Homo sapiens: one gene and its partners. The protein of the gene in region 4 purifies or fractionates together with the protein of the main gene of each other region. This does not show direct contact. Each region holds a gene or a part of one and is shown on either strand. Other genes may lie near its edges.

Evidence for each region. Proteins that work in one complex are often made in the same cells at the same time.
Region 1: the proteins of CHST8 (region 4) and TMED4 purify together in Homo sapiens (affinity purification with mass spectrometry; 4 studies listed by BioGRID and IntAct, with this or other methods). This does not show direct contact.
Region 2: the proteins of CHST8 (region 4) and RRP1 purify together in Homo sapiens (affinity purification with mass spectrometry; 3 studies listed by BioGRID and IntAct, with this or other methods). This does not show direct contact.
Region 3: the proteins of CHST8 (region 4) and TOR3A purify together in Homo sapiens (affinity purification with mass spectrometry; 3 studies listed by BioGRID and IntAct, with this or other methods). This does not show direct contact.

What each region holds. Positions count from the first base shown.
Region 1 is NC_000007.14:44,579,432-44,583,485, forward strand, and holds the start of TMED4 (transmembrane emp24 domain-containing protein 4 isoform 1 precursor), read right to left. Parts: upstream 2,801-4,054; 5' UTR 2,776-2,800; coding exon 2,616-2,775; exon of another isoform or gene 2,393-2,615; coding exon 2,292-2,392; intron 2,144-2,291; coding exon 2,018-2,143; intron 1,809-2,017; coding exon 1,662-1,808; coding exon of another isoform or gene 1,635-1,661; exon of another isoform or gene 466-1,634; intron 198-465; coding exon 48-197; 3' UTR 1-47. UniProt on the Homo sapiens protein: Involved in vesicular protein trafficking, mainly in the early secretory pathway. targeting. Involved in the maintenance of the Golgi apparatus. Appears to play a role in the biosynthesis of secreted cargo including processing.
Region 2 is NC_000021.9:43,788,325-43,792,376, reverse strand, and holds the start of RRP1 (ribosomal RNA processing protein 1 homolog A), read right to left. Parts: upstream 2,801-4,052; 5' UTR 2,748-2,800; coding exon 2,615-2,747; intron 1,028-2,614; coding exon 945-1,027; intron 1-944. UniProt on the Homo sapiens protein: Plays a critical role in the generation of 28S rRNA.
Region 3 is NC_000001.11:179,094,283-179,096,496, forward strand, and holds the end of TOR3A (torsin-3A precursor), read left to right. Parts: intron 1-685; coding exon 686-936; 3' UTR 937-1,714; downstream 1,715-2,214.
Region 4 is NC_000019.10:33,628,453-33,631,952, reverse strand, and holds part of CHST8 (carbohydrate sulfotransferase 8), read right to left. Parts: intron 1-3,500. UniProt on the Homo sapiens protein: Catalyzes the transfer of sulfate to position 4 of non-reducing N-acetylgalactosamine (GalNAc) residues in both N-glycans and O-glycans.

The sequences.
Region 1 (4,054 bases), on a different chromosome or scaffold from region 4:
AGTACCAAATAAATGAGGTAAAAAGGAAGGGTCATACAAAGAGGGCACTACACCAGCTTCTTGGCCTCAAAGAAGCTCTTGAGGTGACGCATCTGCCAGATGCCAGTGAGGATGAGGATGACAGTCTGAGCAATGGACCACCATAGGACCCTCTGGTTGGTGCTCTCGCTCGTCAGTCGGAAGCGCTCTTCACGATACTGTGTGGGGCAACACAGGGTTAAGTGAGCAGGAGAAACAGTCTGGCTGTTGTGAGGTCCCTCCCTGCGTGTAATTACTCAACTCCAGGACCAAACTCCTTTTGGAATACTATCTGTGACTCCATTAGGAGTGCTATGGTCTCCCCACTGAGGCTGCCCCAAGAAAGGGACAGGCTGTCCCTCCACAAGCATCTCTGTTAGGACTGAAATCATGATCCTACCATTTCCAACAAGAGTCCAAGAAAAACAGGTAGGCAATGGCTATTACTAGATTGTGAACTGTCCTTTCTTCATTTTATTTTATAGAGCTTAAAAATGACTACTGAAAGCGAAATGTGGCACATGCATACAATGGAATATTAGCCTTAAGAAATTCTGACACATGCTATAACATGGATGAACTGTGAGAACATTATACTCAGTGAAATAAGCCAGTCACAAAAGGACAAATACTGAATGATTCCACTTATATGAGATAGGGTAGTCAGGATCATAGAGACAGAAAGTAGAATGGTGGGTGTCAGGACAAAAGGAAACGGGAAGTTATTGTTTATAATAAGTACAGATTTGCTGGGTGCAGTGGCTCACGCCTGTAATCCCAACACTTTGGGAGGCTGCGGCAGTGGATTGCCTGAGGCCAGGAGTTCAAGACCAGCCTGGCCAACATGGTGAAACCCAGTCTCTACTAAAAACACAAAAATGAGCCACGCATGGTGGCACTTGCCTGTAATCCCAGCTACTTGGGAGGCTGAGGCAGGAGAATCGCTTGAACCTGGGAGGCGGAGGGTGCAGTGAGCCGAGATGGCGCCACTGCGCTCCAGCCTGGGCAACAGAGCGAGACTCCATCTCAAAAACAAAACAAAATAAGTACAGATTTTTAGTTTGAGAAGATGAAAAAGTTCTGGAGCTGGATGATGGTGTTGGTAGCACAACATTATGAAGGCACTTAATACCACTGAACTATATAGACAGTTAAAATGACACATTTGGTGTTATATTTTACCACAATAAAATGTTTTGATAAAAAAGCAAAACAGGCAGGGCGCGGTAGCTCACACCTGTAATCCCAGCACTTTGGGAGGCTGAGGCGGGCGGATCACTTGATGTCGGGAGTTCGAGACCAGCCTGACCAACGTGGAGAAACCCCCGTCTCTACTAAAAGTACAAAATTAGCCAGGCATGGTGGCGCATGCCTGTAATCCCAGCTACTCAGGAGGCTGAGGCAGGAGAATCGCTTGAACCTGGGGAGGCGGAGGTTGCAGTGAGCCAAGATCATGGCATTGCACTCCAGCATGGGCAACAAGAGTGAAACTCCGTCTCAAAAACAACAAACAAACAACCTATCTAAACCAATACTTCTCATTCCATTCTCTGCAGAGCTGATCTCCCAAGCAGAAACTTGAGTAGGTATAGTGGGTATAAAGGTCAACTGCCCTCTCAAATTACAAGGAGATATGCACTTGCCCTTTGGTAATCCTGCTCCTTCTGAATCTGTTCCACCTGATCAAGCAACTGGCGGGCGCGGAGCTGTAGCTCCGTCAGCTTATCTTTTGCAGCAATCTCAGGGTAGTTGTTGGCATGCTCCCCAACCTGGATGTCGAGATGCACCCGCTACAAGGAAACATGGAATGTATGAGTGGTGGGGCCTCCAGTTGTCTGTTCCAGGGTATGGAACCCACTATTGTCCCTGGCTGTGGAGCAGAAGGCAACATCTGTCTCCCCAATTCTGACTGTGCTACAAAGTTTCACAATCTTGATAAATCAAAATTTGGAAACAAGTGAGAGATTCTAAGCTGAAGCCAAAGAGAAAATCCTCTTACCAGTTTGCCACCAGCGAAGAGAGCCATCCTGGTAGAATTGGAGTGCAGACAGATTTGATGGTCACCGGGCGTGTGGGAGGTGAACGTGAAGCGGCCCTCCGAGCCGTACTGCCGGGACAGCACCACCTGCAACATATGTGAGTGAAGGCCCCACCTTTATACCGCAGGCTCTCCAAGTGCAAGTTCCTGTCCCTTGAGGCCTCCTCCAGGCAGTGCTTTACACCCCACGGGAGCTCCACTGAAGAACGGCTGCGTGGGCCAACGCCAGCCTTACCTTGCCGTCGGGGTCCTTCACTTCCACGTGCATGCCCAGGCCAGGGGTCGAGGGCAGGAAGACCTCCTTCTGCTTATCCCACATCTGGGTACGATAGTTGCCTGCGGGGCAGACACATAGTCACGACCGGCCCTAGTGGGCCGCCTCTCCGCCCGGCCCCCTCCGACGTGCGGCCCGGAGCTCTAGGCAGGGGGCCTGGCGTCCTCGGGGCACCCTCAGGCTAGGTACTGGGGGAGCCAGCGACCCGGCTGGGCTCGGGAGGAGGGAGCGCCGCCGAGGGCTGAGCTGGGTACAAAGGGCCTCCCCACCCTCAGCCCGCCTGACCGATGACCATGGTCTCGTCGGGGATTTCCTCGATGAAACAGCGCTTCTCGGTCTCGCCGATGTGGAAGTAGAGCCCCTGGGCGCCTGTGGCGCACAGCGCGAGAAGCAGCAGGGCCTGCCGCCCCATCGCCCGCAGAGGCCCAGCCCCGACACCTGCCATCGCGCCTCAGCCCCTAAGCGCCTGCGCACATTTGCGCATCGCTCTGCGCCTGCGCGCCACCCTAGCGACCCTGAGAGTTAGGGGAAGAGGACGCCTGCGCAGTGATATGTACTCGCCGTCTCCTGCAACTCCATCCGTACCGAACACTGCCGCGCCCCGCCCCCTCACACAGCCCGGCGCCCGCCTACCCCCGCAACGAGAGTAGAGGGCGCATGCGCAATGACGTTCGCCCTTAATTTCTCGCCCCTTACCCCGCAGCTTACCTCCGGCATCTCGCAGGGGAGGCACGCCTGCGCAGTCACGCCCGCCCTCGGCCCCAGTCAGCGATTTGGGTCTCGGAGCACCAAGGAGACGGTGGACGGAATCTGACCAGGCTTGGTGGCTACGATGGCCTGAAGCGTGCCTTTTGGGTTCTCAGCTCGGGCTCACAAGTGTTTTCTGTGCTAAATACAAAAAGCCCTGTGATGTTTTGCTTTGCGTGTCCACCTATCTGACTCGTAAGAACCGAGGCTGAATCCAGACCCACACTCTGTCACGTCGGGAGAGCCTGCCGCGGCGAGCCTCTGCGAGCGGGCATTTCTTGGGTGGGGACCAAAAGCCCAGTGCTGCCATAGTTTCGGATCATTCTTTTAAGAAGCTGGGGCCGGGCGCGGTGGCTGGCACCTGTAATCCCAGCACTCTGGGAGGCTGAGGCGGGCGGATCCCTTGAGCCCAGGAGTTCGGGACCAGCCTGGGCAACATGGTGAAACCCCCGTCTCTACAAAAAATTAACCGGTGTGGTGGTGTGCGCATGTAGTCCCAGCTACTTGGGAGGCTGAGGCAGGAGAATCGCTTGAACCCAGGAGGTCGAGGATGCATTAAGCAGTGATCGCGCTCCAGCCTGGGCGACCGAGGGTGATACCTTGTCTTAAAAAAAAGGTGGGAGAGTGGAACGAAAACTTGGAATAAGTAGGGTCATGGAGCTTGTTTACATCCCCTAGTTACAGCACATCCTTTTGAAAGTGAAAAACAAACTGGAATGTTACTTAGTGGGCATGGAATCGAAGCAACGGAAGGTTAAAACTGTTTTTATCAAGGCCAGGCGGGCGCGGTGGCTCACGCCTGTAATGCTAACACTTTGGGCGGCCAAGGCTGGTGGATCATCTGAGGTTAGAAATTCGAGACCAGTTGGGCCAACAAGGTGAAACCCCCGTCTCTACTAAAAATACATTTTATCAACAGAATTTCGAAACTTTTATATAATAGAATAATTACAATGAACTTTCATAAAGAACTTGAG
Region 2 (4,052 bases), on a different chromosome or scaffold from region 4:
CACAGAGTCACGGTTAAAGAGGGACGTGGGAGAGCGGAAGGGAGCCTTGGGACTCACAGCCCCCTAACCATCAGGAGGAAGAGGGCTGCGAGACCCCATAGATCACTGGCTATCTGCCTACATCACCGTGCCAGCCATCGCCCAGAATACTTGCTAAGGGACATTTCACAGCCTCCCCTTGATAATTCAGTGGGCATGGAATATGGCCCAGGAACCTGAACTTAACTAAGTACCCTCACCACCCAGGAGATTTTGAAGGAGAGCACAAAATTCACAATTTGAGAAACAATGTTTGGAAAAGGCTAGCAGGAGACGTCCTTGTCTCAGGAGACTTGAATTCCGCCCCGTGGTTTCCACTATTTCAGCACTTGTTTGCAACCCAGGACAAACACAAAACCCAGTTTTCACCCATGCCAGTGCTGCTGCAGTGCACGGCTCAGTCAATCACATCAACACCTCAGCAAGTGTAAGACTCACCTAACAAAGGCCCAGGCCCACCAGCCGTGCCGAACCAAGCGTCAAGGCTATACGACCTCCCCACGGTCTCTGGCCATATTAAAACTGGGTTGACCAGGCCGGGCGCGGTGGCTCATGCCTGTAATCCCAGCACTTTGGGAGGCCGAGATGGGAGGATCACTTGAGCTCAGGAGTTCGAGACCAGCCTGACCAACATGATGAAACTCTGTCTCTACTAAAAATACAAAAAATTAGCCAGGCATGGTGGCAGGTACCTGTACTCCCAGCTACTTGGGAGGCTGAGGCAGGAAAATTGCTTGAAACCAGAAGGCTGAGGTTGCAGTAAGCCGAGATTGAGCCACTGCACTCCAGCCTGGGCAACAAGAGCGAAACTCCGACTTAAAAAAAAAAGAAAAACTGGGTTGACCAGATGCCCATCCATCCTCCCCCGCTGCTTCTGTACCTGCTCTGCTGCTCCCCCCACTCACCTGGAGGAGTGGCTTGTCCTGCATCCACATGCAATAAAACAGTCCTTTCCACACCTTCAGCAGCTCGTCGTGCGTAAAACCACCTGCATCAAAACAGCAACGGTTGGACCAAATGAATCCCACACCTTCGAGTGCCAGAAAGGAAGCCACAGAAACGTGACTGCCTGAATGAGACCAAAGTCCCACTTACGGTAAAGGCAACTGGGGGGCAGAATCTGGCCCTCCCCTTCAAACAATCCTTCTAACCCAGAACCTGCCGCGCCTGTGGCTATGCGGCTACTCCAGGTAACTGCTACTTCACGCACACAGTAAAACCGACTGAGATCTACAAGGTATCAGGCACCATACTCCATTTTGGAAATTCAAAATTGCGAACCTTGACGGTTTCCTAAGCTGGACAGTGGCCACAAGGTTAATCTGTTGGTGATAATTCATCCAGCATTATACTGAGGGCTTCTGCACTCTCCTGTAATATATCTCAAATACTAAAAGAAGAAAGTGAACTCAGGCATTCAGACTACGAGAGAAACAGAAATTACTGAGGCCAGGTGCGGTGGCTCACGCCTGTACTCCCAGCACTTTGGAATTGAGTGCTGAGGCAGGATCACTTGAGGCCAGGAGTTCAAGACCAGTCTGGGCAACATAGGAAGACCCCAATTTGTACAAAAAATACAAAACTTAGCTGGCCTGGCCGCACGGTGCCAGTAGTCCCAGCTATTGGGGAGGCTGAGATGGGAGGCTCACTTGAGCCTGGGAGGTAGAGGCTGCAGTGAGCTGTAATCGTGCCAATGCACTCCTCCACCACGGATGACAGTGAGGTCTGTCTCACTCAGAAAAATAACAAAAAATTTTAATTTAAAACATTACTCAGTTGACATTCACTGAAGTCCTATGTGTCTGGCAACCTGTTCCTGCAGCAGTGGTTCTCAGGCTGAGTGTGGGGAGCAGAAGCACTTGAACAGCTTCATAAAGCAGATGCCAGTCCTGATTTAGTAGGGCTGGGATCCTAGAACTTGCATTTCTTTCTTTTCTTTTGCGATGGAAATGGAGTCTTGCTATGTTGCCCAGGCTGGACTCCTGGGCCTTTGTGATCCTCCCACATCGACGTGCCAAGTAGCTGGGATTACAGGCTTGGGCCACTGCGCCCGGCATAGAACGTGTATTTCTAACAAATGTCCAGGGGATGCTACTGCTGATGGGGGACCACGCTCGGAGAACCACCTGGTACCATGAACAAGAAGTAGATTCTCGGCCCTCAGAGAGGTACTCTCGAGTGGAAATCGGAAAACAATCCAATAATTAACGCAAAACAGAAAACTGCAAACAGTGGGAAATGCTGCCATGAGGGAAAAATACTGGGTGCCCAAACAGCAGGGCAGCAGGAGTACATGGTCTACTGGAGGGAGGGGACGCCTGAGCTAGGAAAGGGGTTACGGGGCTGGGGAGGAGCGTTCTCGCAGAGGGACCAGAGTCACCGCACCACGAGGGAAAGCGGCGGCGGGGGCCGTGGGCCGGTAACAGCGGGAACAGGCCAGTGGACCCCGCCTGCCCGGCCCGGCCACGTGGAGGTTCCACAGGGCTCGGAGGGCCCCCAGCTCCGGCCGCCGCCGCCCACACCCGCACCAGCCCAGCCGGCCCCCGAGACGCCAGCCGCCCACACCCCCGCCAACCTGCGGCCCGCTGAGTCCTGGCGACGATGTATTTCCGGAGCTTCCTCACCGCCCGGTCCCGGGTCACCTGCTCATTCCCCGCCAGGCGCTGAGCCAGCTGGATCTCAGGCGGGAGCTGCACGCGCGAAACCATGACGCCGACGGCCGAGACCCCCTGTCCCGGAGTCGCCTGGTACCCAGCACACTGAGCACGCGCCTCCTGCGCCCGCCTCCTCCTGGCCCCGGCGCGTGGCGTGACGTCACAGCCCGCGACACCGCCCAGGCGCACGCCACCGCCGCGCAGTGGCCGAGCCGCGCAACTGCAGCCCCCGGAGGCCGAAGGCTACAGAGGGGGCGCGCGCTCCCTGCCTGTGCGCATGGGCGGAACCAGCGAGCGCGCGCCTGCGCCTGCGCCTGCGCCTCGCTGGGGCTGCGGTGGGTCGGGATTCTGAGGCAAAGATCTGTTGTTTTTTAATCTCATTTTATTTATAACCCCACTTGTATTTTTTTCCTGAGACAGGGTCTCGCTCTGTTACCCACGCTGGAGTGCAAGGCGCGATCTCGGCTCACTGCAGCCTTTGCCTCGCGGGCTCCAGGGATCCCCCAGCCTCAGCCTCCCGAGGAGCTGGGACCACGGGCGCCACCACTCTCGGCTCGAAACTTTATTTTTAAAACCAGGGGTGTGCCGGGCGCGGTGGCTCACGCCTGTAATTCCAGCACTTTGGGAGGCTGAGGCGGGTGGATCACGAGGTCAGGAGTTTGAGACCAGCCTGACCAACATGGTGAAACCCTGTCTCTACTAAAAATACAAAAATTAGCCAGGCGTAGTGGCGGGCGCTTGTAATCCCAGCTACTCAGGAGGCTGAGGCAGGAGAATTGCTTGAATCCGGGAGGCGGAGGTTGCAGTGAGTCGAGATTGCGCCGCTGCACTCCAGCCTGGGCGACAGAGTGAGACTCTGTCTCAAAAAACAACAACAAAAAAAAAAACGGGGAGGCTGCATTTGGCCTAGGGCCACAGTTTGACATACCCTGAAGTAGAAAAATATTCTTTATTTTTAGAAATAACTGCAGAACTCTTTGGTAAAGGTGACCTGTCATGATGTCTGTAATTCATTCTGCAAAAAAGTAAATCATTACACGCACATATGTGTATGCAGATAAGCAACTATGGCACACTGTTAACAGTTGTGGCGTTGGCCGGGCGCGGTGGCTCACGCCTGTAATCCCAGCACTTTGGGAGGCCGAGGCGGGCGGATCATGAGGTCAGGAGATCGAGACCATCCTGGCTAACACGGTGAAACCCCGTCTCTACTAAAAACACAAAAAATTAGCTGAGCGTGGTGGCGGGCGCCTGTAGTCCCAGCTACTCAGGAGGCTGAGGCAGGAGAATGGCGTGAACCCCGGAGGCGGAGCTTGCAGTGAGCCGAGATCGCGCCACTGCACCCCAGCCTGGGTGACA
Region 3 (2,214 bases), on a different chromosome or scaffold from region 4:
GAATGTGTGTTTATGAAGCAGACAGGGTACTTGGGAACACAGAGGGCAGACTATAATCATCTCACATTGTCAACCCTGGGTGGGCACAAGAAAAGTGGTAAGAAAGCCTGAGCTCCTTTTCTGGGAATGCTTGGAAATAGTAGTTTGCACTGGCCCCAAGAACAGGCGCAGTGGTCTCTGAAGCCTGAGACTCTGAGTCTCACTGCAAGACTTTACCTAAAGGAGACACAGCTGTAGAGTTCTTGACATACGCTGCAGACAGCACTCCTGGAGTTGAGAGATGAGATCCAACCTCACCCAGCCCCTTCAGTCGGGGCCAGGTGTGGTGGCTCACACCTGTAATCCCAACACTTTGGGAGGCTGAGGCGGGCGGATCACTTGAGTCCAGGAGATCTAGACCAGTCTGGCCAACATAGTGAAACCCCGTCTCTAGAAAAAAAACAAAAATTAGCCAGGTGTGGTGCTGTACGCCTGTGGTCCCAGTTACTCACAGGCTGAGATGGGAGGATCCCTTGAACCTAGGAGGTGGAGGCTGCAAGGAGCCCAGATCTCACCACTGCACTCCAGCCTGGTTGACAGAGCAAGCCCCTGTTTCAAAGAAACCAACAGCAACCCCCACCCCCGCTAAATTCCAGCTAGGTTCAGTCCTAGGTCAGACTCCATGTAACTTTGGTCTTGCTTTCAGACAATGGCTTTGGCCACAGCCGTCTTGTGAAGGAAAACCTGATTGACTACTTCATCCCCTTCCTGCCTTTGGAGTACCGTCACGTGAGGCTGTGTGCACGGGATGCCTTCCTGAGCCAGGAGCTCCTGTATAAAGAAGAGACACTGGATGAAATAGCCCAGATGATGGTGTATGTCCCCAAGGAGGAACAACTCTTTTCTTCCCAGGGCTGCAAGTCTATTTCCCAGAGGATTAACTACTTCCTGTCATGAAGGCTAGAGGAAGACTTCCTGGAACTGCCTTTCTTCCACTAACAGGACCCTGGGACCTGTAGGAGCACCCCGTTTGGGACTGTGAGGTGTTTGAGGGTGTGGACTGGCATCCAGCAGCCACTAACAAACACACAACTGGTGTGTAAAAGGCAGGCCTTACATTAGAAGCCAAGCCAATCCTTTTTCTTTTTTTTGGAGGTCCCACCGAGATAGATAGGAACTTGGATTGCTGAATTCAAAAACAGAGCCCATTCTTAAGATCACTTGGTGCCTTAAAGACACGCATTCCAAAGTGGAATGTGGTTGAAGAAAGTGGGCCAGGTGGTTGAAGAAAGCCATGTGGGAGCTCAGCAAATCCCAAGGGCTTATTATGACACTCCAGATGGTCTCCTTAGCATCTCAGCTCTTCTGCAAGGAAGAGCTTGGGTGTTAGGCCTCAGAGGCTGTAGGGTCCTTGGGTTACAGAGCCGGGGAGAACGAAGTTCTGTGACCCAGGGGTGGAGAATACACTCTAGGTTTGCAGGCTGGTGGGCTTTCAAATTGGTACTTCCAGAGGAAAGCCAAGCTGCTTCTGTTGTGAGCGAATCAGCCAAGAGCCTGAGGCTGAAGGGAAAAGTACACAGAGGAAGATATTTTACAAACCAGGTCAGTGTAGGCCAAGACTTATGGTCTACAGATTTTGGCGGGGGAGGGGGGACCTTTTCAAAGACAATAGGGGGTCTTGACATGTTTGTTGTATGTAAAGATGATAAGATTAAAATTTTTGATTTTCCTAAAATCCTTGGCGTACTTTCTGTTTCTGAGACCTAGCAAAATTTCAAACAAACACTGGGTAATCCTGATAAGGCCTGGCAGAGACAGGGCAGATGCTGGCACACACGGAGCTGGCAGGGTATGTGACTGGTCTGCCTGTCTAGTCTGTTTGCTTTGGGACCACATCAGTGAAGCCAAGTCATGCCAACCTCCTACTGAAGAGACTCCCATAGCACATTGCTCTTATATATGAAAATGTTCACTCCTGTACTCTCAGCTATAAAAAGAAAAGCAGTCATTCTGAGGATTAAATGGCACCGTGTAGACATGTAGCACTGTGCCTAGACACAGTGTTCATTATGTGCCTTTCCCCTTTTCTTGGTTCTTCTCCCATGCCTCTGGAATAACACAGGTCTTTTTTCCCTATGTTTTTTATATATTAATTATACACACATATAGAGTCAGGGTGTCACTATGTTGCCCAGGCTGGTCTGGAACTCCTGGGCTCAAGCTATCTTCCTGCCT
Region 4 (3,500 bases):
GTGGACTCTTAGGCACAACAGCTCTAGGAGGTGGATTCTCTTGTTAACCCCGTTTTGTGGATGAGGAAACTGGGTCCCTAGCCCACACAGTGACCGAGTGGTAAGGCTAGGATTGAACCCAGGTGGTCTGACTCCAGGTCCCAGCTTCAGCCGCAACCTAGAGGTGGCTGCCTGGGGTGGAGGGAGGGCGGGGAGTGGTTGCCATGGCTGTGCGCTGACACATTAACTCGTGGAAGAGGGAATCAAGAAGAGTGAAATAATAGGCATAGATTGTGCTTTCACAGGGATGAATGGTCATGAAATTAAATTTGCAGATGAGGCCAAACCTCATGAGGCCCCAAATCTAAGCAGGAAACAGCAAGATGGCCCCAACCAGGAGAAATGCAATTTACCACGCACACCAAGGTGGTAATCCTCGCTAAATGACTTTTGTGAGAAAGAGGCGTGTGAGTGGCTGTCGCGAGGGATGGCAAGGTAGTGATGACCACTGACAGCAGGTAGCCTCTGCACCAGCACAGGCCCAGCCCCAGGCACAGCAACAGGGAGGGGAAATCCACGTGCGATCCCAGTGCCACTCCCAGCCCATGTCAGCCTCTGCCAAGGAGATTCAAACAGACACACGAAAGCTGAGTCTTTGGAAGTCAGAATCAAATCAGACCCAGATGTCTATAGGAGGTGTAAGGAGGAATATTCCCGGGAGAAAGAATCACATAGGAAAAAGGGAAGGTGTCAGAAAGAACCAAGAGCTCTGGCCTCAGCAAGCCAGAGAGAGGCTGGCTGCCCCAGCTCAACCTGTGTGGGCAGATTGCTGAATCACATGCTGAGCCCAACCAGCATAGACAGCGCCGGCTTTTTGCACTGGCTCAATCAGTGTAGACAGCCTGCCTATATCACATACTGATTCCAACTAGTGTAGACAGACTGCATTGCACACTGGGCTTGACCACCCCAGCTCTGGGAGACAGAGCCTGATGGACGTGGCCAACATCTGAGGGGAAGCCCGGACCCAGGCTGAGCTCAGCCACAGGAAAAGCCACTGAATCTACAGAGTTTGAGAGCTCTGAACCTTGTGCAAAGACCCCACAGAGAGTGGGGCAAGCACAGACTACATGGAATGTTCTAGTGCTCATGCCCTAGACTCAACCAAGTGTAGACAGACTGCCTGCCCCACACTCTGTCTTAGCCAGTGTAGATAGACTGCCTGACCCATGCACTGGCTCCGTCAGTTAGACAGACTGCCTGTACCACGCACTGGCCCCACCAGTGTAGACAGACTGCCTGACCCACGTGCTGGCTCCGTCATCGTAGACGGACTGCTTGCCCCATGCACTGGCCCCACCAGTGTAGACAGACTGCCTGCACCACACACTGGCCCAGCCAGTGTAGACAGACTGCCTTCCCCACGCACTGGCCCCACCAGTGTGGACAGACTGCCTGACCCACGTGCTGGCTCCGTCAGTGTAGGCGGACTGCCTGCCCCATGCACTGGCCCCACCAGTGTAGACAGACTGCCTGCACCACACACTGGCCCAGCCAGTGTAGACAGACTGCCTTCCCCACGCACCGGCTATGCTGAAGTAGACAGACTGCACAGTTTAATGCACTCTGCCTGCCCACAAGCAATCGCTCAGTACCTTCTCCATGCCGAGCTCCTCCTGGCCAACACAACCAGAAAGAGCAGCATCTGCACCAACACTGTAACCTGCTTGTGTTTGCTCAACTTCTCCAGGGCCAGGTGTACGAGGCTCTGCATATGGCAGGTCAGGGTCAGTGTTTGCTGGGTGCCTGGATGCGGCACAGGAAGCAAAGCTCCTGCAGCTCAAGGCTGGAGGAGGGTCTCAGTGCTGCAAGCCTAGGCTGATGAGTCTTGTCCCAAGAGATGAGTCAGCCCCCAAAAAGGCAGCCTCGAAGGTGGGGACGACTTGTCTGCCAAGTGCGAGTCAGTCTGTGCCCGGGCTAGGGGCTGCTGGCAGAGGGGCTCTCCTGTGTCAGCTTCCCACTGATAAGCATCTGGGCATGTCCAGGGGTCCACAGTGGTGAAGGCAACAGACAGAATGGAGTGGCCAGGCCAGCCCAGGAAGGCTCATCTGGAGAGGCCGCCCTCTGGGCAAGGAATCAGCCCTGGGAGGGGGCCTAGGGGACCAAGGAGTAATGTGCAGCTCCTAGCATCCTCTGCTTAGCTCTCTTCCCTCCTGTCCCCGAGTCTGGCCCAGTCAGGGAGGAGCTGGCTCAGGCCCAGACAGTGAGGACAAGGTGACAGCGACCTGGGCTGTTGCCTGCAGCTCGGTGGCCACTCAGCTCAGGGCCTGCAGCCAGCAGCATGGGCACAACGGGAAATGGGGTGACTCACAGACCTGCTTCCCTGCTCCCCAGCTCTGGAGGACAGAGCCTGGTAGATAGGGCCGATGTCTGCAGGGAACCCAGGGCCCGACCTGTGCTGCAGACAGCCACAGGAAATTCACCAACATCAGAGGGCACTGCGGAGCTCCCAGCCTTGGGCAGAGCCCCTCCCAGAGGGTGCAACAGGTAGAGACTGGCTCCCTTGGGGAGGAGGAAAAGGAGAGAGGGCTGAGAGCAAGAAAAGGGTATAAGAGAGGATTCTTTCTGGGGCAGGTGCCAGCCAGCTGCCAGGTTACATCAGGCAGGTGGCAGGTGAAGGAACTCTAGGGGTCCAGGAAGCTAAGTGGATGAAACACACATGGAGACCACCACTGGGCAGCACTCAGCTCCGGAGGGAAGTGGGCATCCGAGCCACAGTGGGTGGTCAGCTCCATTCCCCCAGTGGAGGCCCATCCTCAATGAGTCAGGAGGCAAAAGTTGGGCCAGGACCATGGGTCTGGCCGTCGAGCAGCTTGTCCCCACCATGGAGCTATGGGCACTGGGCTGTCACTTGCCGAGTGCCCTGGACGTGCTAGGGCTGAATGGTGAGCAGACAAGAGAGGAAGGCAGTGGAAGAACCAAGGGCTCAGAGCACAGTGGGGCCACACAACCAGCAGCCTGGCCACCCAGTCCTAGGAGGATGTGACTCAGCCAGAGTGGACAGGTGCTTAGCACTCCAGGGGGCAGCCCTGTCTCAGGGAGTAGACAACTCCCAATAGCGTCCCATGGGTAACCATCCTGACCACTCCTTACCACATCCCCTCCCACACCTAATCCAGCCAGGTACCAGTTTAGACAGAATGACTTGCAGAATGCACTGGTTCGACCAGTGTAGACAGATGGCGTGAATGGTGTGCTGAGATCCACCAGTATAAACAGATGGCCTGCATCATGAACTAGGGGCTCAACCAGTGTTACAGTGCCTGCTTTGTGCACTAGCTCAACCAGCGTAGACGCACCGCCTACACCGCCCACTAGTTTCAACCAGCGTAGATGCACTGCCTACATCACACACTGGTTTCAACCAGTGTAGACAGACTCCATTGCACATTAGGCTCAACCACCCCGGCTCCAGGAGACAGAGCCTGATGGACCAGACCAATGTCTGAGGGGAAGCCCAT